Homo sapiens: one gene and its partners. The protein of the gene in region 1 purifies or fractionates together with the protein of each later gene. This does not show direct contact. Each region holds a gene or a part of one and is shown on either strand. Other genes may lie near its edges.

Evidence for each region. The genes of interacting proteins can lie anywhere in the genome.
Region 2: the proteins of MRPS6 (region 1) and ATAD3A purify together in Homo sapiens (tandem affinity purification; one large-scale study listed by IntAct). This does not show direct contact.
Region 3: the proteins of MRPS6 (region 1) and TRIP12 purify together in Homo sapiens (affinity purification with mass spectrometry; one large-scale study listed by BioGRID and IntAct). This does not show direct contact.
Region 4: the proteins of MRPS6 (region 1) and NOA1 purify together in Homo sapiens (co-immunoprecipitation; 2 studies listed by BioGRID and IntAct, with this or other methods). This does not show direct contact.

The regions. Positions count from the first base shown.
Region 1 is NC_000021.9:34,118,145-34,122,439, reverse strand, and holds part of MRPS6 (small ribosomal subunit protein bS6m), read right to left. Parts: intron 1-4,295.
Region 2 is NC_000001.11:1,532,174-1,535,346, forward strand, and holds the end of ATAD3A (ATPase family AAA domain-containing protein 3A), read left to right. Parts: intron 1-1,752; coding exon 1,753-1,899; 3' UTR 1,900-2,512; downstream 2,513-3,173. UniProt on the Homo sapiens protein: Essential for mitochondrial network organization, mitochondrial metabolism and cell growth at organism and cellular level. May play an important role in mitochondrial protein synthesis. May also participate in mitochondrial DNA replication.
Region 3 is NC_000002.12:229,764,849-229,768,509, forward strand, and holds part of TRIP12 (E3 ubiquitin-protein ligase TRIP12), read right to left. Parts: intron 2,903-3,661; coding exon 2,706-2,902; 3' UTR 1-2,705. UniProt on the Homo sapiens protein: E3 ubiquitin-protein ligase involved in ubiquitin fusion degradation (UFD) pathway and regulation of DNA repair.
Region 4 is NC_000004.12:56,965,068-56,967,606, reverse strand, and holds part of NOA1 (nitric oxide-associated protein 1), read left to right. Parts: intron 1-870; coding exon 871-987; intron 988-2,539. UniProt on the Homo sapiens protein: Involved in regulation of mitochondrial protein translation and respiration. Plays a role in mitochondria-mediated cell death. May act as a scaffolding protein or stabilizer of respiratory chain supercomplexes. Binds GTP.

The sequences.
Region 1 (4,295 bases):
CAAACTGTAGACTACTGGAATGGCCACATTCATCTCACTTTAATTTCAAAACACCCAGAAGTATAAAACGAAAGGTGGAAGGAGGAGCAAAAATAACGCCCCATAGACCTTACCTCACCATAAAGCAGGGTTGGCAAACCAGGGCTCTTGGGCCAAATCTGGCTTGCTACCTGTATTTGCAAATAAAGTTGAACTGGAACACAGCCAACTCACACATCTGCATAGTGTCTATGGCTACTTCTGTGCTAAAGGTAGATCTGTAATTACAAGAGACCACATGGCCCCAGAGCCTAAACTATTTACTATCTGGCCAACCCCTGGTTCTATATTGTGATGGGCTGAGGGAAGCTGGCAGGTCCTTAATCCATGTACCCTAAAATGCACCACAAATAAAACCATGAGCCTGGGCCACTGACTGACGTATAGAGGGTGTATTCCTCACTGGATGTGTCATCAGGTAGACACATCGGGTACCATCTAACGAATACCATCAGTTGAGCTGTTCAACTCACTGCAGGGCTCAGAACTGATTCCACTAATCCACTATTCCATCTGCCAAGCTCCTAATAATGTCTTTATCAACCCAGGTTGCCAACTTCAATGTTCCTCATTTGGTGAAACCTATAGATCTATTAAAATAAAATTCTTACGCTTAGAGGGGAAAAAGTTCTGCTCAATCCAGCACAATGTTCAACTTACAAAAGCATATAGTTTACAGGAAACAAATGATCTTGCTGCCATAATTCTCATTTATAAAGTCTCTGAACCACTCAATTCCAACTATTCTAAGAGAAGTTGTGCAGGCTTCTGAGAGGCTTCTCTCACCCCATCTGAAAGCAACTCCTTCAACTCTTTCCTTCTACCTACCAAATGCATCAATGAAACACACTTTGGCAAGGCACAGACTGAGGGCTGAAAACATTCATTTGAAAAAAAAATACAGAAAGAAAGGAATGAATGAATGGGAATGGAAACTAGAAAAACTAGGACTATGATTCTAGTCCTAGCTCATTCACTAATGAGTTATACAAACCTGAATATGTTATTAAAATTTATCAATTTTAAACTTGTACCTCAGTTTCCTCATCTGCTAAATTAGTAGTTCTCGATTTTCCTGTTGCTACAAGCTTCACATGAATAAACAACATTCATACTGCAATTCTCAACATCTGCTGGAGGCACAACAAAGTTTGATGAAAGTCTTTTTATGCCCCCCAATTCTGATATCTTCATCACCAAAATGCACCTCCATCCCCCAGTTCTCCTGATGTCATTCTTTTTTTACTTCTAACAGCACTACAGCAATCTAAAAATATTCTTTCACTAACCAGAATGTAAGCTACAGAGGAGCAAGGACCTTTGTCTATCTTGTACATGACTGTATTCCCAACGTCTAAAATGGGCCACACTCATCGAACAGGTGCTAGAAATAGCTGTGCTAATTGTACCTCCTTTAAGAGGGTCTCTTGCTTACTTACTCCTATCTTTCCTCAAGGAACTCTAAGTTTCCTTCTATCTCTAACATAACTTGAAGCCACTTTTCATATACAACAAAGCTCACTATCAAGGTGGTAACTGTAACACTGAGGCAAAATTACAATACTAATGTTTTCCCATTTACTTCACGCAGTACCAAAATGCTGTTCACACCAATACTGTATTTCAAAAATACCTACAATTCATCTAGAAGTGAAATTAATTAAATATTTTATACATTTCAAATATCAAATTCCAATACACATATAAATATAAATGTTAAAATTACATTATAATTATTTGCTGATTAGGTAAGATAAAGTACTATCCAAAAATTTAACGAAATAGTATAATACTTATAAAAAAGGTAATTAATCCTAGAAGAAATTAAAGCTAATTTTTTATATTAATTACCAAAACTAATGTTTAGCCTACAAAAGACTTAGGGAAAACCCAAGAGCTAACTTCAAATATTTGCAGGGCTATTATGCAAAAGGTAGATTTGTTTTATTTTGATTGGATTCCAAGAGTGGACTAGAATCAAAGGGTAAAAATTAGAGAAATCAAGCTGTATTTTGTAAACAAGAACATATTTCCAAAAATATACAGCTGTATGAAAATGCAGTGGGCTGCCTTGTGAAGTAGTGACCTTCCCATCACTTGAAGTACATAAATAGATACAGGATGGCTGTTGGATTAATATCTGCATGGGTGGGAGGTTGAACTCAACAACTTCTTAAAGCCCCTACCAAGACTAAATACTACTCTGGTACCACTCATCATTCTGAAGGACATTCTGCAGTGAAGCCAGTTTTGAAAACTGCAACTGCATAGCAATGAAGAATACACGTACTGCTAGGAAAAGTTAATGCTGCTGACTAGATTCATGCTAACGTACCAGCTGTTCTACTCACTACTGTTTTCACAATGATCTTCTAAAAGGGTCCCCCGTAAAGCCCAAGAGTCCTCAAACCATATTTTGAAAACCACAGTTCTAGAGATGCTAATGGGAAAAGTTGCTGTAGTAAAAGATGAGAGCAAAAAGGTGGGAAGAATGAAAGGAAGAAAGGAATCTCTCCTTGTCCCCCAAATAAAATCCCCACTCAGGAAGGTTACTGAAGCTAAGAATTCATGGAAGTATCATAACCACCACCACTAGTCAATGACCAACGTTTAACCTAATTAAACATATTTTCATCCCAGAAGAGAAACTTGTCAACAAAATTATCTTAGAAATTAGACTCTATGGGAAAGACAGTTTTAAGCCAGTGGCCTCCAATATACCCAGCTAGCACTACCACACCCTAGTTCCCCAGAAAATAAAGCACACATAGAATCCACAACATTCAACAGCATGCAGCATCTACCTACACCCTGCCCGCCTCACGTTACAAAGAGTTATACAACACTCAAGAGCAGGCAGGACTCAGGGAAGGTAGAGCCAAGACACAGAACTGTCAAAACCTGTGAAAATGTACATGTAAAAGTCTTTCCCATTCTTTGCTGAATCTTAATTCCAAATCTTACTTCCTTTAAAAAATTTCCTTGCAATTTAAATTTTCAAATAGAAAGGCTGTCCCTGTGAATTCTGCATTGACATTCTCACAGCAATCTGAAAATCTGTGAGCCCTAACTTTTCAACAGTCAAATGGGTGTCATGGAAAGTGGCTGAAGTTCTAGCAGACCTTGGGAGAACCATCTACATAAAAATATGTGAAGTGCCAGCCTTGCCTAATGACATAAGCAAAGCCCAACTATGAAATTGATTCCACAGGAACTGTTTGATCAAATATTCTTCATTGTAGAGAACCTCTTTTGCCCAACAATTTATTGAATCAGGAGTTTCAGTCCTCTAGGTAATTAAGGAATAAAAATTATCGAACACAGAAACTACTTTTTAAATTAGAATAAAATTCAATAAGGACAAGTCTAGAACACTAAGAAACATAAAGATGCCTAAGTACATGTTCAAATGTGATTACTTACCTCTACAGGCCTGAACCTGAAGTTATAACTTGAAGTGACTAGAAAAGTAACCTTTATAGGCTTTGTAAAGGTCAAAGATAGAAAACACTTATTAAAATTTAAATGCTGTACTCCTTTGCTTATGAATCATATTATATAGGCCATTTTTAAGAAACATGGAGTAGGCTGGGCACAGTGGTTCTTTCCTGTAATCCCAGCACTTTGGGATGCCAAGGCGGGCAGATCACTTGAGGCCAGGAGTTTGAGACCAGCCTGGCCAACATGGCGAAACCCCATCTCTACTGAAAATATAAAAATTAGCCAGGCGTGGTGGTGTATGCCTGTAGTCCCAACTACTCGGGTGGCTGAGGCTCAAAAATTACTTGAGCCAGAAGGAGGTTGTAGTGAGCTGAGACTCTGTCTCAAAAAAAAAAAAAAAAAGAAAGAAAGAAAGAAATGTGGAGTAACTAATGAATAAAGACTTAACAGGCTTTAAAACAGTAGGTAAATGGGAGGGGAAAGAAGAGACAGGAACCAAAATACAGTGACCCTGGAGCAATACAGGTTGAAACTGTGTAGGTCCACTTACAAGCGAATTTTATTCAATAAATATATTGGAAAAATTTTTGAAGAGTCACAACATTTTGGAAAAAAAAACTTGCTTTTTCTCTAGCTTACTTTATTGTAATACAGTATATAATACACATAACATACAAAATAACATTGGTAAGGCTTCCAGGTCAACAGTAGGCTATTGGTAAAGTTTCTGGGGAGTCCAAAGTTTACACACAGATTTTCAATTATGCATACCCCTACACTGTTCAAGGGTCTAACTGTACATAAAGTGTAGTAAG
Region 2 (3,173 bases), on another chromosome or scaffold:
TACTCCTGAATTGGTTTTGCTGGCATTTTGTTGAGGACTTTTCCAACGATGCTTATCAGGGATATTGGCATGTCATTTTTCTTGTGGTGTCTTTGTCTGGCTTTGATATGAGGGTAATGCTGGCCTCTTAGGATGAGTGAGGAAATGTTCTTCAATTTGTCCAAGAGTTTGAGGAGTGATACTGATTCTTCTTAATGTTTTGTGAATTCACATGTGAAGACATCAGGTCCAGGTCTTGTCTTTCAACTTTTATAGTTTGAAGATTTTAGGTTCCCAGAAAAGTTGCAAGAGTAGCACAGAGACTTCCTGGGCCTGGGACCTTGCCACGTGGTGAACATCATGTGTCACTGTTGGACCCACCTGTGACTGGGTTTTGCCCCAGAATCCCACCCAGGACGCCACGTGACATTTAGCTGTCACTTCTGGTGGGCTCCTGCCAGGTCCCGTGCTTCCTGGAGGGGTGGCCCCGTGAGCATCTGCATAGCCCCTTTCCTCTGCTGGGCCCTGGGTGGGGTGCAGCCACTCGGGTGGACCCTGAGGGTCCCTGCACCTGTTTGCCCTCTCTTGGGTGCGCTCAAGACCAAAAATGATGTTGAGCAGTCCTGGGCCCCGGACCCACAGTGGTGGTGCGGCTCTGGTCAGTGTCTCCTGCGCTCCCAGGCCCCTGACCCACAGTGGCGGTGCGGCTCTGGTCAGTGTCTCCTGCACTCCGGGGCCCCTGACCCACAGTGGCGGTGCGGCTCCGGTCAGTGTCTCCTGCGCTCCCGGGCCCCCGACCCACAGTGGTGGTCCGGCTCCGGTCAGTGTCTCCCCACACAGTGGCTCTTGGTGAGGGGTGGGCGCTTGCAGAGGGGACGGGCACCACGTGGTCATCCCCATGGCAGGTTCCGTCGTGGCGACGGTGTTGTGGGAGGATGGTGTGCTGCTGCCCCTGCACCCCGTGAGATGAATCCTGCCTCTGGGAGGTACAGCTGGGACGGGGCGAGGGACCCACTCAGCTGTCCAGGAAGGGTCCCCTGCCCTGTGCTTCCTCCAGGTGTCCTGGTGCGCTCCTGAGCACGGTGCCCAGTGGGGGTCCCCACACCCTGACCCTGACCCTGACCCACGGGTGCCTCCCCTTGGGGACTCCACGCCCTTCGCTGGCATTGGGATGGAGAGTGACCCGTTCATTGCAGAAGGGCTGGACCTGAGGCTGCCTGAAGCCACACCAAGGGCCACAGCCCCAGCAGCTCCAGCCTTCACGTGCCAGATGCCAAGCCCTGTGCTCAGGAGGACAGGGAGGTGGGGGCAGAGGTGGCCTTGGTGCCACCACTCATGTGCCTCAAGGTGGGCAGTGGCTGCCTCTGCCCTGGAGGCCTGTGAGGGTCAGGGTCTGAGGGTCTGAGGTGCACTATGACCCGGGGGCACTGCCTGGCCACGGCTGAGACTCGCAGAGGGTCTGCAGTTCCCACCTGCCTCTCGGAAGCTGCCCTGGGTCGGCGGTCAGTGAGGCTCCGCCTTGGGCTTTCTATTATTAGAAAGTCATTGAGCAACAGCAGTGCTGAGGACGCAGGCAGGGCTGTGGGCACTGCAGGGGCTGCTCCCGGTGTCCACACACGTGCTGGGCTCTGCCGAGGTGCGGGAAGCCTGTGTTTCACGCTCAGGCCATCCTGGAGCCCCTGGTTTGGTCCCTCCCCACCTCGGGGCCCTGGCGTGCATTTGGGGTGGGGGGTTCCCATGGCGGCCTCCCTCAGCTGCCTCTCTCCCCACTAGGCCACGGCGTATGCCTCCGAGGACGGGGTCCTGACCGAGGCCATGATGGACACCCGCGTGCAAGATGCTGTCCAGCAGCACCAGCAGAAGATGTGCTGGCTGAAGGCGGAAGGGCCTGGGCGTGGGGACGAGCCCTCCCCATCCTGAGTCCACAGGGAGATCCACAGCTCACGGAGCCTGGCCGCGGACCCCTCCCACCCCTGCCTTGCCGGCCCCTGCACATTTAGGATATGCTCCTGGGTGGGGACTGGGCTGTGCCCAGGGCCTCTGTCCCCCAGGATGTCTTGTGGTGCGGGTCGGCCGTTCTGCCCCCCAGGGCACCCCCTGTTGTAGGCACTGGCTAGGGAGGGGCAGGCCTCCTTCCTGCCCCTCGAGACACTCTTGGGAGATGCATTTTCCGTCTGGCTCACAGGGGGAGGGTGAGGCTTTGCACCCCAGCCCCTGCCCAGGCCACTGTGAGGGTGGGTGCTGGCTGAGCCCCCGGGGCAGCAGGAGCCAGGCAGGTGATGTCTTTGTTCTCGGCTCCCACAGCAGAGCCAGGTGAGGGGGCGCCTGCCAGGGCCAGACCCAGGTGGGGCAGCCTGAACCCTGCTTCCCCCTGTGGCCGGCATGCCCCGATCTTTCACACACTGGTGACCCTGAGAGAGGAGGGAGGAGGGAACCTGGCGGGGGTGTCTGAGGCCGCACTGTCAGCTGGCCGGTCCAAGCCTGTGGCTGGAGCTGGGGTCTGTTTACCTAATAAAGTCCCACAGGTGCCTCATTGCCCTGTCTGTCTCTTGGCTGGCACGGGGTGGGGTTTTGGGGGCCTCCTAGCGTCCCCCTGGGGTCAAAGGTGACAGAAGAGGCGGAGGCTGGCGCTTTCTGGAGAATTTACTGACCACAGAGGGGTGGGCTTCACATGAGTGCCCGCCACTGCGGGGCCAGGGGCCTGAATGCTGCCTGGGCCCAGCCACCTGCACCCCACCCTGTGGCTGTGCACACGCGGGTGCTCCCCTCGCCCCCCTCCCCTCCGCCCAAGCTGGCTGGGGCCAGACAGACGGTGGACGCAGCGCACGGGAAACAGCGCCTTCAAACAGATGCTGGCCCGGGCCGCGCGCCTCGCCGCCCCTGCCCCCACCTGCCCCCCAGGACCCTCCCTGCCCCCCAGGACCCTCCCTGCCCCCCAGCACCGCTGGGGATGAGTCCGCCCTTGTGTCCTGCCCCCCAACTGCAGGGTCTCCCCTAACCCAACCCCCACCCTAGCCCACACCCCAACCCCCTTTATAAAAAGAAGAGACAGCACCTTCCACTGGACTCTCCCGGCCGGCCACAGCCCCGGACAACCTGGGCCCAGGGCTGCTGTCCAGTCCCGCCGGCCCGGGCGTCCACGAGGTCCCTTTTACATCTGTACAGCAGCCGGTTGGCTCGGTGGCCCCGGTAAG
Region 3 (3,661 bases), on another chromosome or scaffold:
TTACTTTCTTTATATCCTGCTAGTGAAAGTTCTGTCACTACAAATGCAGGGAACCAGAGACAAGCATGAGAAGAGAAAAATCTGCGTTTCTTACGATGAGTGGCTGTGTGAAAGGTTTCTGCTGGGTTTGGCTAAGGCATCTAAAACTCCGTGTCTGCTCCCAATTAGTCTACCTAGAACTTACAGTTCAGTTTTCTGGGGGGATAGGAAGAGGGGATTACATTTAGCTACCTCTTCCTTCTTGGAATAGTTAAAAATACGTTCTCATATATAAAGCAGATCGAATCAGTAACTGTCTAAATGACAACACAAATTCGGTGTTAGCTATGACTAACATCTGACTGACTCCATCTCAGCAAAAAATAAAGGACAACAAAATCTCAGTTGTTACCCAACTAAGTGTTTAAAGTATACTAAGAAGTTAGTGCTCGTTGATAGGATTACCAAGCAAATGAATTTAAGGCATAACTGGAGTAACAGCAAATGAAGTATATACTTTTTCCCTCTGGTGCAATAAGGCCTCTGCCAAGAGAGATTACTTTAAGAGTTTTCCTGCCCCAAATTAACCAAAGGTCCCGTGTATTGAAGGAGGAATAAGCTAAAGGCTGAGGCTTTTAAACAGGTAACGACTGACTTTGAAACACTCAAGACTTTAGAGTTTGAGTCAAAATCATCATATATACTTATTAGATGCTGGAATCAATGAGGCCAAATTTGCCAGGGCTGCAACATGGATAAAATGTCAAGTACAGATGAAACATTATTTTGTTTATACATGTCTAAATTTTAACAGAACCCTTTAAAAATCAGGAACAAAATGCTATGTTCACACAAAAATCCTTGTGCTTAATTTGCAGGAAGATATCAGAACAGTTGAAAACAAATTGTTTCAGTCTTTAACTTCACTTGATGAAGCTGCTCAGCAACTGTGCTGTTAGTGGTGAAAACTGCAGAAACACAATTCCCTTCTTGGATTTCAGGGAAAAGCCATTCACTTGTCAGTCTCTGCAGAGACAGGGAGAGAATTCTCTGCCCCCAACTCCTCTGACAGTTCCCTTCCACTTAATGGGGTCACTGCCCAAGTGAACTCTCAGGAGGGGACATTTCCATATAAGGCCATTTAAGTGTAAATTGACACAGCAATCTATGTCAAACAAGCCACTGAGTTTCTTTTGGGTGGTGGGATAGGGAAAAGGGCTTTTGTGTCAATTAATTAAAACTTACAGAACAGTCAAAAAAATTGATTTCTCAAAGTTCAATTAAAAAAAAAAACTAGCTCATCTCTTATTTTCAAGGAGATGAATTATGGAAAATTCCTTCAAATTTATGCCACAGGCCTAGTTTTGGACCTTAGGAAGGAATCTCCTCCCATTTTCTCTTCACATTTTAGTTTCTTCAAGTTGCTATTATAAATTGTTTGAATAGCAAAATCAGCCATGACCCGAATCATGGAGATATGTGGATTTCCTTGCATTGAAATACATCTATACAATTGAAAGTTATGCATACAGCACAAAACTATAAACAAAAAGGTGAAGCAAACTTTCTTTATTTTCAGGTAAAAACATTAACCTGATGGATTATTGCAGATTTGAGAAATCAGCACATAAAATGACTGGACAGCATTGCTTACAGGTGCTTTTATCTGCGTCGAGACAAAGGCTGAACTGTTTTGTCCCAAGTCAGCACTGGGAGAAGGGGAAGAGGAGCGTGGAATAAAGAAGACTATGAACAAAAACGTAAAACAACAAAGGGAAAAAAATTTTTTTACTCCAACAGGGAAGGAAAACTGCTTATTTTGTTTAAAAAATTTACATTAATTTAAAATCCTCTGGCCACAGAATAATAAATACCGGCCAGCCCAAGCTGTAGACTTCTTAACCTTCATAAAAGAAACAAATGAGCTTTCCTTGTCTCATTCCAGAGGCTGTTGCTGCTGGAATTGCCATGTAAACAGTCCTTAGTGTGTCACCTGGGAAAAAGCCAGTAATACCCTAAACTATATTAAAACTAAACTATAAGAAAAGTCTACCTAGTTACAAAAGCTGAATTATATTCAATAAATTTCAATCCAATGAATTTTAAATTAGATCTTAACTGGAGAGAACATGGGACAACAGAAGCCCATGGGTAACGAAAATTTGAGAACTGTGAGTTGTATACAAAAAAAAAACTGTGAGCTGCACAGATAATAATGAATCAGGGAGAGAAAATCAGAGGAAAGTGAAAAGCACATAGAGCTAGTCTACTAAACTATATTTGTCAAATACATGTGAGCTTAAATTTCTGTACTTATGTACAAGAGTTGTCTTTGGAGGAAAGAAAACTGCAGACTTAGCTAGATGGATACACACAGCCCAGAATTAAACTGCACAGCCACATTTATTGTTCCAGCCTGGAAAAACATCCCTTTTTTAAATTTCACACAGCAAAGCATGTTAAAAACTTCACTCATCAAATAAATGATAATTTAAACAAGAACTTGCTAAAGAAACCTCATCACAACAACGTTTTAGGGCCTGATCACTTTAAGTCCATGGGGCCATTAATGAATATCAACCAAATGTCTCTTTATAATCTGCAAGCCGTTTTTCCTACAACAAGAAGGCGTAACATGTTTCCTTGACTCAGGTGATAACATTAGAAAAGAAATCATGATTTGTTTCTTTTGCTGTAACAGGCAGACACTGCATTTCTTGCTATGATCAGGAAAGATGGAACGACTGCTGCCCTTCTCTTGCTGCTATCAACAGTTTTTCACGCATTATCTCAATGCTTGAATAGTCCGGCAACTTAAGATAGTTCACACAAGTCATTACAGAGGGCAAGAAGTCATCTGGGTTTTCTGTTGATTCAAACGTCTTTCGGACAATTGTCAAAGGTGGATTCAAACTCCGGAATCCTGATTAAGAGAAAAAGAAAGACAAGGAACTTAAGTTTTTAAAAAACATCAGCTATCAGAAAACATTCCACTGCTTTGCCGTACAATATTACACACAAGATATTCTTTCTTGCTTGGCAATTGCACATTCAATATACATTAAGTGCAAGGAACCTGCTTTAATTTATCATTTAAAAACTCGCTGTATAACATGGAGGCAACAGTTCTTTATGTCTTCTGATTTTTAAAATGGAATACCCACAGTGGTTCACGCCCGTAATCCCAGCACTCTGGGAGGCCGAGGTGAGCCAGTCGCTTGAGAGTTTCAGACCAGCCTGGGAAACATGGAGAAACCCTATCTCTACAAAAATACAAAAATTAGCCAGACATGGTGCTGTGTTGTGCCTGTAGTCCCAGCTACACAGGAGGCTGAAGCAGGAGGATCTCGCCTGAGCCCAGGAGGCAGAGGTTGCAGTGAGCCAAGATCACGCCACTGCACTTCAGCCTGGGTGACAAGAGTGAGATCCTGTCTCAAAAAACAAAACAAAAACAACAGAATACCAATTTAACTTACATTAGGATTCAATCTGAAAAACCAGATTTTAGAATCCATTCTCATCTAAGTCAACTAAGAGTTTAGAATGTACAAATGGCCTGGAATTTTATCTAACCAGCATTACATGTGCATTAGTAATCCTACTTCAATATGTTTAAGACAATCCCCATGGATTTCCCTGCTAGTGGTCTCAATGTACTATAATGATACTGGAATAACTAAGA
Region 4 (2,539 bases), on another chromosome or scaffold:
GTGAAGAGAAAAAGGAAAATGAAACATGGATATGGATATGTCCAACAACACAATACAACTGTGTGCCATTACTATAGCACATTTCTTGGGTTTTGTGTTTGCTCATACTTTGTTAGAAATTTTGCCTTACACACTTAGAACCCTTATATATTTCGTTTTGGGAGGTTGTTGGTTTTTTGCTTTTGGGGTTGGTTTTTTGTTTTTTTGTTTTTTTGTTTTTTTTTTTTGAAACAGCATCTCTCTCTGTTGCCCAGACTGGAGTGCAGTGGTACAGTCACGGCTCACTGTGGCCTCAACCTCCTGGGCTCCAATGATCATCCCACCCCAGCCCCGCAAGTAGTCGGGACTACAGGCACACATCACCACACCCAGCTAATTTTTGTATTTTTTATAGAGACAGGGTTTTGCCATGTTTCCCAGGCTGGTCTCAAACTTGAGCTCAAGGGATTCACCCACCTCGGCCTTCCAAAATGCTGGGATTATAGGCATGAGCCACCACACCAGGCTTGCACCCTTATATATTTCATCAGAACACATAAAATGTTAATATTTTAAACCTAACTTTACACAGAGACAATTAAAGCAGATAGTATTTCCTTTTAATTTTTAATAATAGACTTTTTTCAAAAATAGTATTGGGTCTGTCAAAGAAGTCATAGTTTCACATGAATTGCTGAAATGCACTGCTTCAGTATTGTGCCCCTGTTCTTAGTAATAATTTGATTTACAGCTACTGCCATACCAGTACTTATAAAGGGAGTCTGATTGGGTTTTTGTTTTTTGGTTTGTTTTTTTTTTAGTTGATTGTACCTTGAATATGCAGGTTTTCCAAGTTTTTCACCAGGTCAGATAACTTCTTCCTTTCTTAAGGGAAATCAGTCAGCTTGGTTTACAGTCGTGGCTTCCAACATCCTCCCTGTGCATATCACCTCCTTGGACAGGGCAGACGCTCTGTATCAGAAGCATGCAGGTCATACGTTACTCCAGGTAAGGCAACATGCCTTGATTGCATGGTTATGGTTAGTATACACTGGGATGGTCCCATAGCTCTGTTAAGAAAGCCTTTGTTGTACAGAACTGTTATACAATATCTTGAGCTAGCTTTCCCTCACCTCATTCTCTTTGAGAATTCTGGCTATAAAGCAAAATTGCTCTATATAGACTGATCCTAGAATAGCCACACAGCTATTTTTTTCTCTAGACTACACTGTCCAATTTGGTAGCCATTAGCCCACATGTGGCTAAGTTTAAATATATTAGTGACAATTAAAATTTGCTCAGTGGCCAGGTGTGGTGGCTCACGCCTATAATCCCAGCACTTTGGGAGGCCAAGGCAGATGGATCACAAGGTCAGGAGTTCAAGACCAGCCTGGCCAAGATGGTGAAACCCCATCTCTACTAAAAATACAAAAATTAGCCAGGCGTGGTGATGGGTGCCTGTAATCCCAGCCACTCAGAAGGCTGAGGCAGGAGAATCACTTGAACCAGAGCGGCAGAGGTTGCAGTGAGCCAAGATCGCGCTACTGCGCTACTGCACTCCAGCCTGGGCAACAGAGACTCCATCTCAAAAAAAAAAAAAAAAAAAAAAGAAAATTTGCTCAAGTTAGCCAGGTATGGTGGCATGCACCTGTAATCCCAGCTCCTCGAGAGGTTAAGGCAGGAGGACCACTTGAGCCCAGGAGTATGAGGCTGTGGTGAGCCATGATTATGCCACTGCACTCTAGCCTGGGTGACAGAGTGAAACCCTGTCTCTAAAAAAAAAAAAAAAAAAGGGAAAATTTAAAATATGGTTGCTTAGTGTCACCAGCCACATTTTGAGTGCCCAATAGTGACATTGTTGCAAAAAGTTGTATAAACTCCTGACAGCCTCATCACCAATACACACACACACACACACACACACACACACACACCATACTTTGGACAATTAAGCTATAGTTCCCCGAACTCATCATCCTTTTTCCAGTTTTTATCTGTACCTGTGGCGACCGAAAATATCTTTCCACCAAATAACTTTGACTCATTTCTCAAAATATTGCTCATATATTGCTTGTTTTTGTTATATATATATAGCTTCTTTACTAATGTTTTCCTTGACTGAACACATTCATTACTCCTTCCTTCACAACCATAGTACTTATAGATGCCTCACATTACATTTCTGACCTTGTATTAGCTTACATATTATCTACCCCTTTGATTTCCTTGGGGGCAGAAACCATACTGCAAAATCTATCTTTGTGTTCTTAGTGCTAAACACAGGAGAGATTTGCTAATGAATAGATGAATAAATTACCCAGTTACAGCCAAGCGCAGTGGCTCACACCTGTAATCCCAGCACTTTGGGAGGCCGAGGTGGGCAGATCACCTTGAGGTCAGGAGTTTGAGACCAGCCTGGCTAACATGGTGAAACCCTGTTTCTACTAAAAATACAAAAAAATTGGCCTGGTATGGTGGTGCGCGCCTGTAATCCCAGTTACTCGGGAGGCTGAGACAAGAGAATCACTTGAGCCTTGGAGGCGGAGGTTGCAGTGAGCTG